Linked DNA regions of Homo sapiens: regions 1 and 2 are each linked to region 3. Evidence: fine-mapped expression QTL. A gene starts in region 3. Each other region holds a variant in brackets. All regions are shown on one strand. Distances are between the middles of the regions. Region 1 overlaps DCDC2 (doublecortin domain containing 2). Region 2 overlaps DCDC2 (doublecortin domain containing 2). Region 3 holds the start of DCDC2 (doublecortin domain containing 2).

What was found. PIP is the estimated chance that this variant, and not a neighbour inherited with it, causes the effect.
Region 1: its variant is the best candidate, but not a certain one, in a credible set for the expression of DCDC2 in prefrontal cortex (GTEx, PIP 0.59).
Region 2: its variant is the best candidate, but not a certain one, in a credible set for the expression of DCDC2 in prefrontal cortex (BrainSeq, PIP 0.53).

Annotation. Positions count from the first base shown.
Region 1 is chr6:24,257,047-24,263,260 of GRCh38, forward strand. All of the region lies in intron 7 of DCDC2 (doublecortin domain containing 2), which reads right to left. Among named protein-coding and RNA genes, the nearest start is that of KAAG1, 97 kb to the right of the region's middle. The variant T/C (reference allele first, on the strand shown) is at 3,786.
Region 2 is chr6:24,247,460-24,253,673 of GRCh38, forward strand. All of the region lies in intron 7 of DCDC2 (doublecortin domain containing 2), which reads right to left. Among named protein-coding and RNA genes, the nearest start is that of KAAG1, 110 kb to the right of the region's middle. The variant T/C (reference allele first, on the strand shown) is at 2,824.
Region 3 is chr6:24,355,479-24,361,692 of GRCh38, forward strand. DCDC2 (doublecortin domain containing 2) reads right to left here and starts at 2,581. Exons shown (of 10, transcript NM_016356.5): 1 at 1,980-2,581. The coding sequence starts at 2,272. KAAG1 (kidney associated DCDC2 antisense RNA 1) reads left to right here and starts at 1,425. Exons shown (of 1, transcript NR_174942.1): 1 at 1,425-2,807. RefSeq lists enhancers at 4,306-4,894, 4,728-4,817 and a silencer at 4,438-4,587.

The DNA.
Region 1 (6,214 bases), 98 kb before region 3:
TTTTCTCTAACCTATTACTTCTCCTTGCATTTAAATAAAATGCCTCTGCTTACACAGATATATATCTACTTTGCCTCAACATTGTGGCAGAGGCCTTGTTAATCTCTGTGCCACTGGAAAATACTTGATTAGCAAATCTGATTTAATCAAGTTAACCTTAAGAAATATCATCATAAATAACTGGAATGCCTAACCTTCAAATAAAAACATGGCAAAAAGTACACAATGTGTGAAAAAATTCAGTCATTCTCTCATCAAGCTCTTCAGAGAGCTTTGTGTTATAAACCAAGCCAGATGATGGGCTCACAAAGATGAAAAAGACAATAATAAGCAGGAGTCCTGGCTCTCAAAGAGTTCACGCACCAGTGGAGAGAAAGGGCATGAAAACAACCTGTTCAATTACAACACCTGCTGTTGTAATACACCTGCTGTAAAGTTGTGTCCCACTAGGAGGCAGAGCAAAGAAAAAGCTCAACTCTGGGAGTCTCAGAACAGATCTTATAGAAGAGATGATGCCACTGTTAGTCTTAAAGAGAATAAAGTTATGGGTATTCTAGACAGCTGCAAAGAGACATACAAAAGACACGCGATCGAGAAACTCTAAAATGTTTTATATGTAGGGAGGCTTGTGGAAGACGCCTGAAGTTGGGGAAAAAAAAAAAAGGCCATGAAAGTGACAAGCTTCTAAAGAAATTTCATCAGAAAAGTTTTGTGTTTTTAGAGCACTCTGGCAGAGCTGTGATGTACAGATAGGGAGGGAGCTTGGAGACCATCTGGAAAAAAGGCTGCAGTAGTCTGCATTAAAAATAAGGAGCTTAAATCAAGGATGGTCAGGAAGGACCAGATTCAAGAGACTCTGAGAAAGTAGAATCAATGAAAATTAGCTCTGATTGAGTGTGAAGAATGAGGCATGGAAAAATCTAGGATGACTCTAAAGTTAACTGGATTAAAGTGGTGTAAGAGGAGACACGGAGGGGATTAGAAAGGAATCAGGCATGGACTGCTAACCTCCTGAAGTAGTGTGTTCAGAGTGGGTTCCTTCGGGTGGGTTCGTGGTCTCGCTGACTTCAAAAATGACGCCACTGACCTTCACAGTGAGTATTACAGCTCCTAAAGGTGGTGCGGACCCAAAGAGGGAGCAGCAGCAAGATTTATTGTGAAGAGCAAAAGAAAAACCCTTCCACAGCGTGCAAGTGGACCCAAGTGGGTTGCTGCTGCTGGCTGGGGGCGGGGGGTGGCCAGCTTTTATTCCCTTATTTGTCCCCGCCCACATCCTGCTGATTGATCCATTTTACAGAGCACTGATTGGTCCACTTTACAAACATCTAGCTAGCCACAGAGAGCTGATTGGTGCACTTTTACAGAGTGCTAATTGGCGCATTTTACAAACCTCTGGCTAGCCACAGAGCACTGATTGGTGCATTTTACAATCCTAGCTACAGAGTGCTGCTGATTGGTGCATTTTGCAATCCTCTTGTAAGACAGAAAAGTTCTCCAAGTCCCCACCCGACCCAGAAGTCCAGCTGGCTTCACCTCTCCGTAGCACCACAATATGGAAACTACTGTCAACAAATGTGAACCTCAGAGAGCCAATCCTTCAAGTTGAATCCTGAGTCACTCACTGGGTCTAAATTTAAAATAGAGCCAAGTAGCCCTTTGCTGACTAGAGGTCACACACATAACTCTGAGCCCTCAGAAAATCCACATTTCTGTTCAACTTTGGGACTCTCAGAGTCACTTGAACCAACCAATCAGAGCTCACCTGCCTCAACCAATCAGGGCTCAGCTGTACCAATCAATAGGAGCTAAGCAAGTTTGAATCCTTCATTTGCATAAATGAACCTGGGCAGGAACTTGTGCTATAAAACCTGAACCCTCCCTTTGTTCTCTAGAACACATCTTCATTGTGCACTAAAGGCTGCAATCTCCTTGGTTTGCAAACTGTTCACAGGAATAGTCTTTCCTCGAAATTCCTTTTCAGAGAACTTTTGTTCATATTATGAACTCCTCTCCTCTTCCCCCTTTCCACTAGCGTGGGTCACACTCAGATTTCTAGCTGGGTGATATCCAAAGATACAAGACATGTGAAAAAAAAACAGCATGTAGGGGGAATCCAAAGCTCGGAGAATTTTTTAATTTGTGCATGTAGGATGTACGTGACAAATCAAGGTAAAAATTTCAAGTAGTCAGAAATATGGGCCTTAATGTAAGAAGAAATTTGTTTCCAGGCTCAGATCTATAAAGAGGCCGTTGAGAATGTGTCAAGGGCCTTTTAGTGAGGGATACATAATTACGAAAAATGAAAGTTTTGTTGTTTACTAAGTGATGGTCTTTAGAGTAAATAGTGATATTCGCAGTCACCATTATGATTTTTAGAAGAGTGCATGGCCACTTTTAAGCTAATGTGAAAAAGTATATGAAAATAACATTATAAGGTTAAACTAGCACGGAAACATCAAAAAGAAAACAAAAACAGCAATTCTCTATTGTCCAAGAAGCAAATTTCTGAACAATCTCTCCCCTTCCCTGTTCATATTAAATTAAATTGTTTTTCCAATTTGAAGGATTAATTAACATTTAACTACTCTTGGTTTAAAATGCATTAGAGATTTAAATGCTGAAACTGGTCCTGGTTTTATTTTCTTCTTTTTTTCAAAATTCTATGCCTAGAACTTTCTCTCTCAAATAAATATCAATTCCCAGTCTCAGCAGTCAGATTTAACCTCTCTCCCCTGTGCTCTCAAAGCCTTGCTTGGTTACTCTATTCTGCTACTTGTAATATCCTACCTTGACTTAGAAACACTTCTGAGTCTCCAACTCAGTAAGTTTCATGAGAAGAAAACAAACCACAGTGTTTTCCCATTTTTATGCCTCTCCTCTCAGTACTCACCATGTTGACAATAAAATTCAGTGGAGCTTAGGAGTAAAGAGAGTAACCTAGAGGCTAACTGGTGTTAAAGAGAATTGATGCTTAAGGTTATTTTTAGTTTTTTAAATTTTTATTAGAATAAGAAATGATTCTGTCTGCCCAACTAACTTTTTTCTTCCCTCTCTCCTTCTACTCCTTTCTAATCCTACTGATCTTCCTTAAACTTTTTCATCATCTTCCAAGAAACTTCAGCTTTTGGCTTCAGACCAGAGTGGCAACTGAGTCTTGGGAGGGGGAGGACACAAAGCTATAAGGGACAGCTAACTAGGAAAGCATGAATTATTAATGGGTTGCCGGTTCCCACCTCTCATCTCTAGGCTCTCTCATTTCTGGTACTAAAGTTCCTCATCTCTGACTTGGAGACCAGTCCAGACTAATTCGTATCTCCTTACATAGATACTGCCTCTTTTGGCACTTTCTACTTTACAAAAGTGTTTTCTCAGTCATAATGTTTCATTATTATAAAAATGCTAAATAACCATCATCATGCTTCTAAATTATAACCTCAGGGTGAATGCAGGAATAAAGTCTAAAGAGAATTTGATTATTCTCCCAACTAATTTCTAAAAATTAAACAGGCAGCTTGCCTCACAGTTGAACAGCTGCCTTATATCCATCTAGCTACTAAAGAAGCTTTATTTCTCTGTCCCTTCTGTCTGAGGCTTGCTCAGAAAATAAAAATTTCTAAGATGTGAACTCATCCATCTAAAAGTTATAGAGTGCTGTACTAATTAGGTCTGGAACTCTGTTTTAACTAGCAAACCTTACCAAATTGAAAATATAATAAATCTCAACCATGCTGGGATAAAAAGTGCCAGAGAAAATATGGAGACCATTTGTCAATGATGGTGCTCAA[T/C]GGTTCAAGTTTTTGTCCTGGGAGGCTACTCTTCTTGACTCCCAGAACAATGACAGCCCACACTGCTTATTCCAATATTGGATTGAATTATTGAGAACTCTGGTACCAATGTGGGGTAAATGACAGAATTCTTTTATTTAAGAGAAACAGTCATTGTTCCCTTTTGCTCCTAATACATTCTTTGTCTAGTCTGACATGGGAACTGTCTATGCTTTTAATTGAATCTTTTAAACAATTCTGCAGTTACAGAAGAATAGTAATTCATTTTAAGATTGCAAAATTTTCACCTCATACAAAAAGAGCAATTTTAGAATTCTCAGCTAACATCTTCTCCATATCCTTCATTAAGTACATTTTAAATCCATTTTCTTGCTTTTTTTTTTTTTTTGGTGTTCAACTACTCTGCAGAATGTCTCTACCTTTGTTTCTGATCTGAGATGTCAGTGCTTTTTTTTGTTGCTACTAATGTTATGCACATAAGGTTTGTAACTTCTTAGCCCAAGCCAAAGTTCTATGGCAGCTTTGGTGGACAGTTCTCATATGGTTTGAGGTCTTTCTACCTCAAGTTCCTGAGTTTCTCTGCCTGAATCTCTTCTCTGGCCAGAGAAGCATGTTCAGCCTGAGTATGGGATGGGCTGGAGTGCCAGGGAGGTAATTCTCCAAGTAAAACCCTCAAGCAACAAAGGGCAGTAATTGGGAGACAGACATCCCAGTTTCCTTGATCCTGCATGGGACAATTCTAAGGTGTGTTTCATGGGCTCTGAGAGGGTCCCAGCAGGACTGAGTGCAGTTGCCCACAGGAGTAACTTTTTCAATAATATCCTTCCTTATTGACTTTTCTCATCCTTATGTCTTACCTGCCCCTAATTTCCGAGGTCAATTCCCAAATGAATTACTTGCACCCAAGTCCTTTTCTCAGCTCGTCATCTACTAAGCATAGCTTTTGGTGAAACCCAAATTAAGATAAACAGGCATCAGATATCTTAACAGCTGCAATGAACATAAACAATCAATGAAGTAGCCCATTCAAAATTCCAGTTGAAAAGTATCTCCAACCAAAAATTCTATGTCAGGAAATGAGGTGGAGCAAGACGACCAAATAAAACCCTCCAGCAATCACTGTCCACCCCCCAACAGGAATGCCAAATTGAACAGCTATCCACACGAGAAAGCCCCTTCATAAAAAACAAATATCAGGTAAGCAATCACAGTGCCTGGTTTTAACAGCGTATCAAGGAGAAAGGCACTGAAGATGGTAGGAAAGACAGTCTTGAATTGCCTACACCACCCCACCCCCGTCCCCCAGCAGCAGCCTCGTGACACCGAGAGAGAATCTGTGTGCTTAGGGGAGGGAGAGCACAGTAATTGTGAGACTTTGCATTGTAACTCACTGCTGCCTTGTCACAGCAGAAAGCAACATGGGGCAGAATTCAGCCAGTGCCCATGGAGGGAACATTTAGACCAGCCCCAGCCAGAGGGAAACTGTCCCATCCTAGCAGTCAGAACCTGAGTTCAAACTAGCCCCATCACTGAGGGCTAAAGTGCCAGAGCACTTAAATAAACTTGATAAACTTAAATAAACTTGAAAGACAGTCTAGGCCACAAAGAGTGCAACTCCTGGGAAAGCCCTGGTGCTGCGCTGCCCTTGGAGCCAGTGGACTTGGGGTGCACACAAATTAGTGAGACACCAGCCAGGGTGGCTAAGGGAGTGCTTGTGCCACCCCTCCCCCAACCCCAAGCAGTACAGCTCGCAGCTTTGGGAGAGATTCCTTCTTTCTGCTACAGGAGAGGAGGAGGAGGAGTAAAGAAGACTGTCTTGCAACTTGTACACCAGCTCAGCCACAGTAGGATAGGGTGCCAGGCAGAGCCCTGATGCACTCATCCAGGCCCTAGCTCCCAGATGACATTTCCAGACACACCCAGGGCCAGAAGGGAACCCACCTTGGGCCAGCAGGGAGAAAAGCTTATTGCCTTGAAGGGAAGGACATGGGTCTGGCTGGGTTCACCAACTGCTGACTGAACAGCCCCTGGGCCTTGGGTGAACATCAGCAATAGCCAGGCAGTGGTCACTGTGGGCCTTAGGCAAGACCCAGTGTTGCCCTGGCTTTAGGTCTGATCCAGTGCAGTCCCAGTGGTGGTGGCCATATGGGCTCTTGTGTCACCCCTGCCCCAGGATCCAGGGAGCTCAGTATGGAGAGAGACTCCATTTGTTTGCAGGAAGGCAAGAGAAGGGGAAAAGAGTCTCTGCCTGGTAATGCAGGGAATTCTCTTGGATCTTACCCCAGATCACCAAGACAGTGCTTCCACGCATCTGCCAAGAGTCACAGCATTACTCGGCTTGAGGTGCCCCCTAATGCAGATGCAGCTGCAGTAACCAAAGACTTAGATTACAACACACAACACACTTGGAATACCTAGAAAGCCTTCTC
Region 2 (6,214 bases), 110 kb before region 3:
GGGAGGGTAAGGAACAAGAAATGGTTTGAGGGCCCTAGTCATCTAGAGATGGAGTACACTGAAGATAGGGTAGGCTAAGAAGGGAAGAACATATTGAGAATAAGAAATACTCCAAACAAACTTTCTGAATAAAACACCATTCAGTCACTCACAGATATATGCCGAGCTCCTTTCAATTCAAATAAGGATTGGTTATATATCTTTATCACGCACATGAAGAAACGTTGAAAGGGGAGCAGTTTGGAATATGGGTATAGCAACAGAGTATGGAGGCAGAGCACTATATTTTGAAACTATGTTTCTTCATAGCTGTGTACTCTTAAAAATGTTCTTGGCCATGTGTGGTGGCTCACGCCTTTAATTCCAGCACTTTGGGAGGCTGAAGCGGGTGGATCACCTGAGGTCAGGAGTTCAAGATCAGCCTGGCCAACATGGTGAAACCCTGTCTCTACTAAAAATACAAAAAATTAGCTGGGTATGGTGGCGGATGCCTGTAATCCCAGCTTCTCAGGAGGCTGAGGCAGGAGAATCACTTGAACACGGGAGGCAGAAGTTGCAGTGAGCCAAGATTGCACCATTGCACTCCAGCCTGGGCAACAAGAACAAAACTCCATCTCAAAAATATTAAAAAACAAAAATAAAAAAAGAATGTTCTAACGTTCTTTAACTGCTCTTCAGCTCAGTTTCTGCATCTGTAGATTGGAATAAAATACCTAAAATTGTTGTGGGCATTAAATGAAAATATGCTGTGAAGTTCTTAGTAGACAGCCACCAACAAATGTAGCCACCATTATTACCACAGGACACCATACGGTGCAGTGCGGGGGAGCAGTTGTTTCAAACACTAACTTCTTCACTTACCAGATCTAGACCTTCACATACAAGTTACATGGTCTGAACCTCTTCAAGCCCCGATTCCTTGTCTGTAAAACTGAGATAGTAGCTGCTTCATGGCACTGTTAAGAAAATTAAATTATACAACATGCACAAAGAACTCAATATACTGCCTGGCACACAGGATGTCCTTAATCAGTGGTAGTATTAGTATTGGTAGTATTAGTATTAGTATCATTAGTATCATTTTGTGGCACAATTTCCTGAAGACCAGTTTTGCTGGCAGGATATACGTGGTTAAGCAAAGGTAAGACCTTTGGAATAGTAAGATACTAAGAGGCGAATTTAATTTGTAATTCCCTCGAGGGCAGAAACATCTGTTTACTACATGCCACGTACTCCACCTGTTAATTGATGACTTACCCAGATGAAAAAATGCACTGACCTACCTCATATAAAACATACAACAAATAAAAATGACTATAAACATTTTCAAAATATTAACTCCTGCATAAATATTAAATTAAAAATGGAGCTCAATAGGGAATCACTAATAAGATGTTTGAAAATATAAAGCATCTGTTTTCACATTATGCCAATTAACCTAATGCCCTTATTCCTTTAAAACCATAACTACCAATTACCAATGCCCCATCCATCCATCCAGTGAGCAGCTTTAGTTTCTTTTTTGCATTTAATAATTTTAGGTATTTGTTTTCTAAATGAAATACCAAGTGTCAGGTGACCATAATTTCCAAGGTTCCTTCTACTTTGATTTCTGTTATTCTTATTTAATATATTAAAACTCTTAAAAATAAGCCGCTCATTCTAAAGTGACTCACTTAATACCTGATGACTCCCTAAACAAAGGAATTAGAGTGAAAGGCTCTGCTTTATAATTCTATTTTAAAAGTTAATGTGAGCTGATTGTTTTTAATACTTCCATAATTAAAAATATACTACAATCATAGCTCTGTGGAGATGGGTTTGACTTGCTGAAACCCATTTAACTAGTATTAATTGCTAAAATTCTATTTGGGAATCTGATAGTTTGAGTCCCATGTAAGAAGACAAGTCTCTATTCACTGATACCTTTTTAAAATTCAATTGAAAAATTCAATACACTTTCTCTTCTAACATTTTAAAATAGCAAAGCCCCAGCTTTGCTCACAGCTGTGCTGCTATGATATACAGTAATGTAGCTTTTGATAATTTCAGAAGTTTCAAGATAAGGCAGCGATGCATTGGTTGCACAAAACGCCTATATTTAGGTTTCTATCTCCTTATACTCTTATGTGTATTTTATCTAAGCCTAATCCAACCGACAGTGTTAAATTAAAAAATAAAAACATTAAGAGATGGGGAGTAAAGACAGATTTAGTTGTAATCATTGTGAATTATTTTGAAAACCACATCTCCTAACAGCATTTCTCAGGAATATCATACCCTCAGCACTGTGTTTGGGGATAGTAGATCCTCTACAAAGCCTTGTCGAGTGAGTGTGGTCCCTCCCTGACTCCATTCCTCTTTATAATAGCCATATTGAAGAAGCAATATTATTTGAGTTGTAAATTTAAAGTTAAAGCTTTTCTTCACTGTTTCAGAAGGGAATCACTGATTGTAGTCTAATAGAATGAAATATATTGCTCACTTTAAGAATGGCTGCCAGGTAGCAATGACTGAACATAGTAATGGACTCATCAATTAGGCACTGACGAGAGCAGTATGAGCTTTCAGCACAATTGCAATTTGAGAGGTTTAATTAGTAGGCTCAAGTCCTTTTTGATTTTTTACCCGGGTCCCGGCAGCCTCCCTCCCCCATCCTCTGATCCTTCTCATCATCTCTCACTGGACTGAGTCAGAGGTAGGCAGTGAGTGGTAGAAGACAATTGGCAAGAGCCTCCAGGCAAGTTGGAATCTATCAAACCAGAGGTGAGTACAAATCGGTAACCTAAAAGCACCAGGCTAAAATCACATGTCAACACCAGG[T/C]TGCAGGGCCAAAGGAGAAGAGAATGGGGCCAAAAATAAGCAGAAGGTGGCCTGGGTGCTCCGCCTGTCATAGGCTCTCATCTGTGGCCAGTAATCACGGCTGGCTAAAACAGAGCACTAGGGTGGGCCTGCTGTGCTTAAACGACAAGGATCCTACAGAGGTAAAAATGTTGCAAATGTTATACACTTCTTCCTTATGGCAATGAAAAATATGTTCTGAACATACATATATTCTAAGCATTCAATTTCTAAAAGCATGTTGTCCCTTCTAGTGCTATAAGGCAAAAGTTACTGATGGTAACATTATAATATACACAATCTGCATGCACAAATATATTTATAAAATATGTGAACAATTCTAAAAGACAGACTGCTTTAGAAGAACAGAAATAATACAAATTATTCTGCAAAGTGTCATTTTCCAACTTATATCCTAATCCTTACACCTACCCTATTAATTCAAGAAAAAAAAAACAGAAAATATAAATCATACCCCTAAAGCACTCCTACACCAGGCACCAAAATTACATAGCATGATGATGCAAAATTATGGCACTTTCAAACAGCATTTGAGAGTGTGTCACAAGCGATGAAAAATGTAATTTATTTCTACTGACAGATATTAATTGCTCTGTGTTAGAAAATTTTTGAACCATTACTGATAAGCAAAAATGGTAACATAAACGCCTTGAAAACAACTGCAAGGAAAGAGGTATAGTCTAATCATAAAACCTCCCATAGCATAAGGAAAGGCAATTTCTCAAACAGGACATCTATTATTAAAATTTGTAAATTGTTGCTATGACACAGTAGGAAGAAGCTTAGATGTGAAGTCGCTTCCAGCAGGTCTAAAGTGTTATTAATCTCCAATAGCACTGGCTAATTGGAGTTTAGAATTCTCTCCTGTTTCCTAGCAAATCGCCTTGGTTGAGGCAAAACTGGACAGTTTCAGGGAAACCTTCAAAACAGGAGGATACATGAAGAATAGCTTACTCCTTTAAAAGTGAACCCCAAATGGCGCAAATGAATTTCACTTGCGGTTTGAGAGCTTGCTGTGCTTTTCCTTATTAGTGCCATTATTATTGTTAATCGATTTTGGTCTGTTACTTTAGAGATTATAAGTTTGGACAGCAATGTTAGGTTACCTTGGCTTCCACAGCTGGTATGGCTAGCCCTAATTCCTCACAAACCTCCTGAAATTCTGCTATCTCAGAGAGAACTCTGCGGGAGCCCTTCCATACACCATCTTGACACCTCCTGACACCTGTGCTCTTTTCAGTTGCAAAGTCTGCCTAAGCTAAATCTCACCTCTGCACCATGGCTTCAGCTCTCTGGTCTTGAGCACATTCTGACACCTGTGTCTGAATTCTGCTCTGCCTCCCTGTGTCTCTATTTCTATCCACAGCACTGTTGGTCTCTTAAAAACCTAGGATGGATTTCTTAAGCATTATAAGTAAATCAACTCCCTTCTCCTGATTCTGTATGCATCTGTTATCTTTCTATGCACATTATAATCTCAAATCACATAATTTTTCCAGGATTTTACTGGACTCTTTCCAATTATATTCTGTATACAACCATCAGATAATTTTCCCAAAAATGTTACATTCACCACATCAAATCCCTGTGCACATATTCATCATCTCCAATGCCTTGCCTCTGTAGCTGCAGAATGCTGTCTAAATGTAATAGCTTGGCATTTAAGGCTCCTTATGACCTAGTCCCAGCCTACCTCTATGGACCAGGCCACTACAGCTTTGCACACTAACATCGTCCTCTCCAGCCAAAGTAATTTATGAAATACAAACACAAAGTAGTTAAGCTTTCCTGCCTCTGGATTTTTATTCTGGCAAATTCCCTATTTCCCATCTTTTGATTTCAGACCAAATACCAAGTTCCCTACAAAGCCATTCCAGCCCATAGTGACTGTCCCTTCTTCTACCCTACAACACACATATAGTTCATATTATATACTTCCTTGTACTACTGTTAAATCTGTATATTTAACTATACTATAATTTCCAGCCAGATCACAAGCCCCTTGAGTGAACAATGTCAGGAATTTCTAAAGTCCCACAACATGTGCTAATGAATGCCTGCTGATGGAGCTGATTGGCTCCTTTAACAAATAAGGTCTAAAGGACACAAAGACCATGCTGACCTGCTGAGCAAAGCCACAGAACAAAAGGGAAAAAGGGCGATGATTGAAACCAGAATTTTAAGGGGAAGACAGCCAAATGAAATCATGTGAAAACATGTATGGATCAAAAAGATGCTAGATCAAAAGAGGAAGCTCTGGTAAAAGCAAGCAAGAGGGCAAAGAGATTTAATGAGCAAGAAAGTAGAAAGAGAATGGTGAGGGGAGGATGAGCCTAGAGCCATCTCAAAGCCAAAGTACAAAATCAAAGAAATCTGACCTAATTGACAAATACACTGACACAGCACTCAGCAGTGATAACACAAAAACATTCTTCAAGTACCTCTGGAATTGTTACCAAATTTCACCCTATGCTGAGCCATAATGCAAGTCTCAACAATACAAAGAGACTAAAATTATTTATGTTCACTCACCACAGTGGAATTAAGCTAGAAATCAACAACAAAAGGAACACCAGAAAATGTCAAACTGTTTTGAAATTAAGTAAGGCCATTCTAAATAACCCGGGGTCAAAGAAAAAAATGACATGGGAAATTTCAAAACATTTTACATAAATAATGAAAATAAGACAAATCAAAACATGTTGGATGCAGCTAAAGCTGTGATAAGAGGGAAATTCGTGGGCTTAAATATAATATTAGGAAAAAAACAAGGGCTAAAAATTGATGCTCTATCCATTTCCAGAAGATAGAAAAAGAGTAAGTTAAACTCAAAGAAAGCTGAAGAAAGGAAATAAATATAAGGGTAGAGATTAAATGAAAAATAAAACGAATGTACAATAGAGAAAAATCTAAGTCAAAAGCTAAACTAATTATAAAAAAAGAAAGCATAAAATACTAATGTGAGAATAAAAATAGTACATTATTATAGATCCTACAGGCATTTTCTTTTAAAAGAAGATATAAGGAATACCTTTACACAAATAAATTTTAAAATTTAAGTGAAATGAACTTTACCAACATAATGTATCAAAACTGATGCTGGAAAAAATGTAAATACAGTCATGGATCACTTAACAGGGATCTGATCTGAGAAATGCATTGTTAGGCAACTTCATTGTTGTGTCAATATCACTGAGTGCACTTACACAAACTTAGAAGGAATAGCCTATTACACACCTAGGGTGTGTGCTATAGCCTATTGCTCCTACACTACAAACCTATACAGCATGCTACTATACTGAGTACTGTAGGCAACTATAACACAATGGTAACTACTTGTGCTTCTAAACAT
Region 3 (6,214 bases):
CTTTGGTGTTTACAAAACACACATCTATAGCATTTACTTTTTATCACAGCCCTGTGTGGTACAAATGATTATGCACCTTTTCTGTATTAAGAAACTGATTAGCTGAGTCAAGCGACTTGCCCAAGGACACAGAGCTGATGAGCAACTCAGTCTTCAGTCTCCTGGTTTTAAGTTTCCTTTAAGCATGCAATTTCATTTAGCCCTTTTTTACGAAGTTTAACAAAGCATGCTTAAGAAGCTTCAGGGGAGGGAAAAATAAATCCAAATATATCCCTCACTTTCCATGAAAAGAATGTCTGACGTAACAAAAAGTATAATAGAATACCTAGAACTCAATTTAAACAAATATAGGAGAAGAAGGATTACATTCAAGAATTTTAGTGATATTTTGAAAAATATTTCTATGTAGTTATAAGACTTTATTTGAATTTTAATTATTAAGAATCCAATAATGCTTATGAATTCATAAGCTTAGATTTATGGTCAAGGCTTTTTTCTATCCTGGGGCCCAAGATGAATTTCAATTAAAATGTTCTATTAAACTATGGAATACAGAGTTACCATGTGATCCAGCAATTTCACTCTTAGGTATACACCAAAGAGAAATGAAAACTTGTACACAAATATTCATAGATGCATTATTCATAATAGTTAAAATGTGAAACAACCCAAATATACATCAAACTGATAAATGGATAAGCATGGATATAAAAGGTAATATACCCAAATCATGGAATGTTATTCAACAATAAAAAGAATGAAGTATTGATGTATGATACAACATGGATGAACCTTGAAAATGTTACAGTAAGTGAAATAAGCCAGACATAAAGACCATATACCGTATGATTCCATTTATATGATATGTCCAGAATAGACAAATCCATAGATTCAGAAAATAGATTAGTGGTTTCCAGATGACAGGGGACAGAGGAAACTGGGAGGTACAAATGTTTTGGCGGGAGGGGTGGAAATGAACTACAATTAGTTGGTGGTGATGGTTGCACAACTCTGAATACACTGAAAGCCAATGAAATGGTTGGACTTCATGCCATGAGAAATCTATCTCAATAAAGCTGTAAAAAAAAAATGGAATGTAAAATTCTACCTGTCCTATAATGACCACCCCAACCAACTCTCAACTCACAATTCCCACATAACTTTATTTTTCTATGCACATATCCCTTTGTAGCTTGCATTAAAATTGTTAGTGTGCAGGTAGTCCAGTTAGACTGAAAGCTCCTAAAGACAAGGAATCATGCCTTGCTCATCTTTGTTCCCTGAACTGACGGTTTCTTAATTCACTGAACACTCACTATGAGTGAGCTCAAGAGCTGGGAATAAGGACCCCTGCCCTTGAAGGTCTAATCACGTTGCTGGAGACAGACAGTCGACAAATACAGTCAGCCAGTAAACTCTTCCTGCATTATGCTAACAGCATAAACATGCAGGGGGTGGGAGCAGGGTCACAAAAGTGAGTGTTGTCAATTCTACTTGGAATGAAAGGTTGAAATAATTTAAACAGTACGGGAAATGCAGAGCAATTTTCTCCTCTGGTGACAATATAGTGTCCAACACTTGGAAGTGATTTTTAAGAATGTTTATTTAAATTAAAAGGATGGATTTCCAAGGAAAAAAAATAAGGAAAAGGAAAGAAAAAACTGAACAGAAAACGCAAAAGTATCAGTTTGGTCACTAACCTTTGCAAGGATACCTTTTTATTTTCTTTAAGATTCCTGTTGTTTATACACAGATTTTAAGTTTACTCCTACTGCTGACCCAAGTGAAATTCCTTCTCCAGTCACAGTGTCAACCTCTACCCCCCAACTGCAACGAGAGTTTTGAGGGGCATCAATCACACCGAGAAGTCACAGCCCCTCAACCACTGAGGTGTGGGGGGGTAGGGATCTGCATTTCTTCATATCAACCCCACACTATAGGGCACCTAAATGGGTGGGCGGTGGGGGAGACCGACTCACTTGAGTTTCTTGAAGGCTTCCTGGCCTCCAGCCACGTAATTGCCCCCGCTCTGGATCTGGTCTAGCTTCCGGATTCGGTGGCCAGTCCGCGGGGTGTAGATGTTCCTGACGGCCCCAAAGGGTGCCTGAACGCCGCCGGTCACCTCCTTCAGGAAGACTTCGAAGCTGGACACCTTCTTCTCATGGATGACGACGCGGCGCCCCGCGTAGAAGGGGTCCCCGTTGCGGTACACAAGCACGCTCTTCACGACGGGCTGAGACAGGTGGCTGGACCTGGCGCTGCTGCCGCTCATCTTCCCCGCTGGCCGCCGCCTCAGCTCGCTGCTTCGCGTCGGGAGGCACCTCCGCTGTCCCAGCGGCCTCACCGCACCCAGGGCGCGGGATCGCCTCCTGAAACGAACGAGAAACTGACGAATCCACAGGTGAAAGAGAAGTAACGGCCGTGCGCCTAGGCGTCCACCCAGAGGAGACACTAGGAGCTTGCAGGACTCGGAGTAGACGCTCAAGTTTTTCACCGTGGCGTGCACAGCCAATCAGGACCCGCAGTGCGCGCACCACACCAGGTTCACCTGCTACGGGCAGAATCAAGGTGGACAGCTTCTGAGCAGGAGCCGGAAACGCGCGGGGCCTTCAAACAGGCACGCCTAGTGAGGGCAGGAGAGAGGAGGACGCACACACACACACACACACAAATATGGTGAAACCCAATTTCTTACATCATATCTGTGCTACCCTTTCCAAACAGCCTAATTTTTCTTTTCTCTCTTCTTGCACCTTTACCCCTCAATCTCCTGCTTGCTCCCAAATTAAAGCAATTAAGTTCCTGGATGTAGTTGCCCAGGTTTTTCTTTGCTGGAAGATAAATGTGCAAAGCCAGATGCGGTGGCTTACGCCTGCAAATTCCAGTACTTTGAGGGGCCCAGGCGGGAGGGCTGCCTAAGACCAGGAGTTCTAGACCAGCCTGGGAAACACAGGGAAAGCCCCCGTCTCTATAACGCGCCTGTGATCCCCTGAGGCAAGGAGTTTGAGACCAGCCTGACCCGGTCTCTACAATTAAAAAAAAAAAAAAAAAAAAAAAGTAGGTGGGCAGGGTATTCGCCTGTGGACCCAGCTATCTCGGAGGCTGAGGCGGGAGGATTGTTTGAGCCCAGGAGGTCGAGGCTGCAGTAACCTATGATTTTGCCACTGCACTCCAGCCTGGGCGACACAGCAAGACCCTGTCTTAGAAAATAAAATATATATTTTTTTTATATATATATTTTATATATTTTATTTTATATATATTTTATTTATTTATTTATATATTATATATTTTTATATATAATATATAAAATATATATTTTATATATTATATATAAATATATATATTATATTTATATATATATTTATATATTATATATAATATATATAATATATATGTATTATATATATTTATATATATAATATATTATATATTATATATATTATATATTATATATTTTATATATTATATATTATATATTATATATTATATATTTTATACATTATATATTATATATTATATATTTTATATATTATATATTTTATATTTTATATTTTATATATATTATATATTTTATATATCATATATATTATATATCATATATTTTTATATATTATATATTTTATATATTATATATTATATATATTATATATTTTATATATATTATATATTTTATATATTTTATATATTTTATATATATTTTATATATTTTATATATTATATATATTTTATATATTATATATTTTATATATTTTATATATTTTATATATTATATATAATATATATTTTATATTTTATATATATTATATATTTTATATTTTTTATATATATTATATATTTTATATTTTTATATATATTATATATTATATATATTTTATGTATATTATATATTATATATATTTTATATATTATATATTATATATATTTTATATATTATATATTATATATATTTATATATACTATATAGTATATATATTTATATATACTATATAATATATATTTTATATATAATATATTATATATATTTTATATATTATATATATTTTATATATATTTTTTATATATTTTATATATATTATATATTTTTATATATATATTTTATATATATTATATATATTCAGAGAGAGAAAGAGAGAATCCGGGTACCGTGACTCATGCCTGTAACCCCAGCACTTTGGGAAACTGAGGCAGGAGGCTCACTTGAGCCCGGGAGTTTGAGACCAACCTGAGCAGCACAGCAAGACCCCATCCCGGAAGGAGGGAGGGAAGGAAGGAAGGGAAAAATAACATTTAAGTGAATGAATGAATGAATGAGAAACAGAGCGAAGACTCGCGTGTCTAGGACCCCTAACCCCCTCCCCGATGATCAGCGCCGCCTGGCGGCGAAGCTCGGGTGCGCATCACGTGAAGACAGCAGGCAGCGCGCAAGCGGGGCCCTGGTTGGGGAGGCGGGCCCAGGAGGTGCCCTCCGCCGTAGTACCTACCGACACTCGCGTGCTGGAGAGGGGAGGGGAGCTCGGGCGCCGGCCGCGCGGGGGCGGGGCGGTGCGGCTCGGGTGGCACAGTGGTGAACTCTGCGGCGGCTGCGCGCCGCTCACGCTGTTCCTCCAGCTGCTGTTACCTCTGCGGGCCTCTCTCACCCAAGGGGAACGGAGTTGTTATTTCCCGCTGTTTCCATAGCAACCGCAGCCTCGCGCGGGGAGCGAGTCAGTGAACCAGGCCTGGCTTGCGCCTGGCTCCTTGGGATATGCTGGCTGCGTGGGGCAGAGGCGGAAGAACAGGGGTTTGGAGGAAGAGGGAGAAACAGGTGACATGATCATGCGCTCATTCATCATGCGCTCATTCAGTAAATGGACGCCTGCTGTGTGCAAGGCCCTGTGCTAGTTGGGGCCACGGCGGTGAAAAGGAAAACCTACAAAATTTTGAGTGCCTACCCTGTGCCAAGCTTTACGCCAGGGAAAGGATTTTTTCACTGCCGCAAGAAGGCTAAATGTCTGACTGGCTGTCCAAGAGCCCACATCTGTGCTATTTGTGTAGATTGTTAGCTCTGTCTGAGGAATAACAGGGAGAGGAGTTGTGAGAATAGTAACAGCCCCAGTAAAGAGTCGCTTTGTCCAGTCCAGTCTGGGACATACATATTGTGGCACCAGGAAAATGTTTAAAGAGTTGAAATTTTGCAGCTCATCTCTGCCAGTGTTTCCTTCATTCCTCCTAAGACTTTTCTACCATGTGTCATGTCCAAATTACTGGGTGTTCCTAACTCATCATGTACGAATAAAAAGAACTGCCATTAATTGAACACTATAACCATGGACCAGGCATTATGTAAGGCACTTTATGTAGATTATCTAATATTCACAATAACCTTCAGAGGTAAATATTATTCTTTCCTCAGATGAGGAAACTGAAGGGTAGAGAAATCAAAGACATTTACCTCAGGTCACACACACAGGAATTCAAACCCATTCTAAGGATTAGAAAACGAAAGAGAGAGAGAGAGTTCAAACCCAGTTCTGTCTTATTCCACAAGCTCCATAACCAGTCATATCACTGTGAAAGATGAATGTGTGGGACATTGCAATCTGGAGAGAAACTTTTTTTTTCCTTCGAGATTTCTGTTCTGAAGAAATATTTTTATTAAAGCCATGTAATACATTAATGCTTTGAAAGTTAACAGTTTTCAAACGCAGGAACAAAAAACCAAATACCCGCATGTTCTCACATATAAGTAGGAGTTAAATGAGGAGAACTCACGGACACAAAGAAGGGAACAACAGATACTGGGGCCTACTTGAGGGTGGAGCGTGGGAGGAGGGAGAGGAGCAGAAAAAATAACTGTTGAGTATCAGGCTTAGTACCTGGGTGATGAAATAATCTGTACAACAAACCTCCGTGACACGAGTTACCTATATAACAAATCTGCACATGTACCCCTGAACCTAAAATGAAAGTTAAAAAAAAAAAAAGTTAACAAATTTCAAAAGAAGGCCAAAGAGAACAATACAGGGAGGAAATAGACAAGGGAAATTTTGTGAGCTGCTTGTGGAGAATGCACAGGTTGAGGGATGGATGGGGAAAATACCTGTGAAAATGTGCTACCACATAGGTGAGTAAGACAGAATACTTGTTATGTGGAAATGGAAGGCAATCAATTAAGTAGCCCCCTCCCCAAACAACCTAAAATTCCCTATCATCTATATTAGCCCAGTGTAAA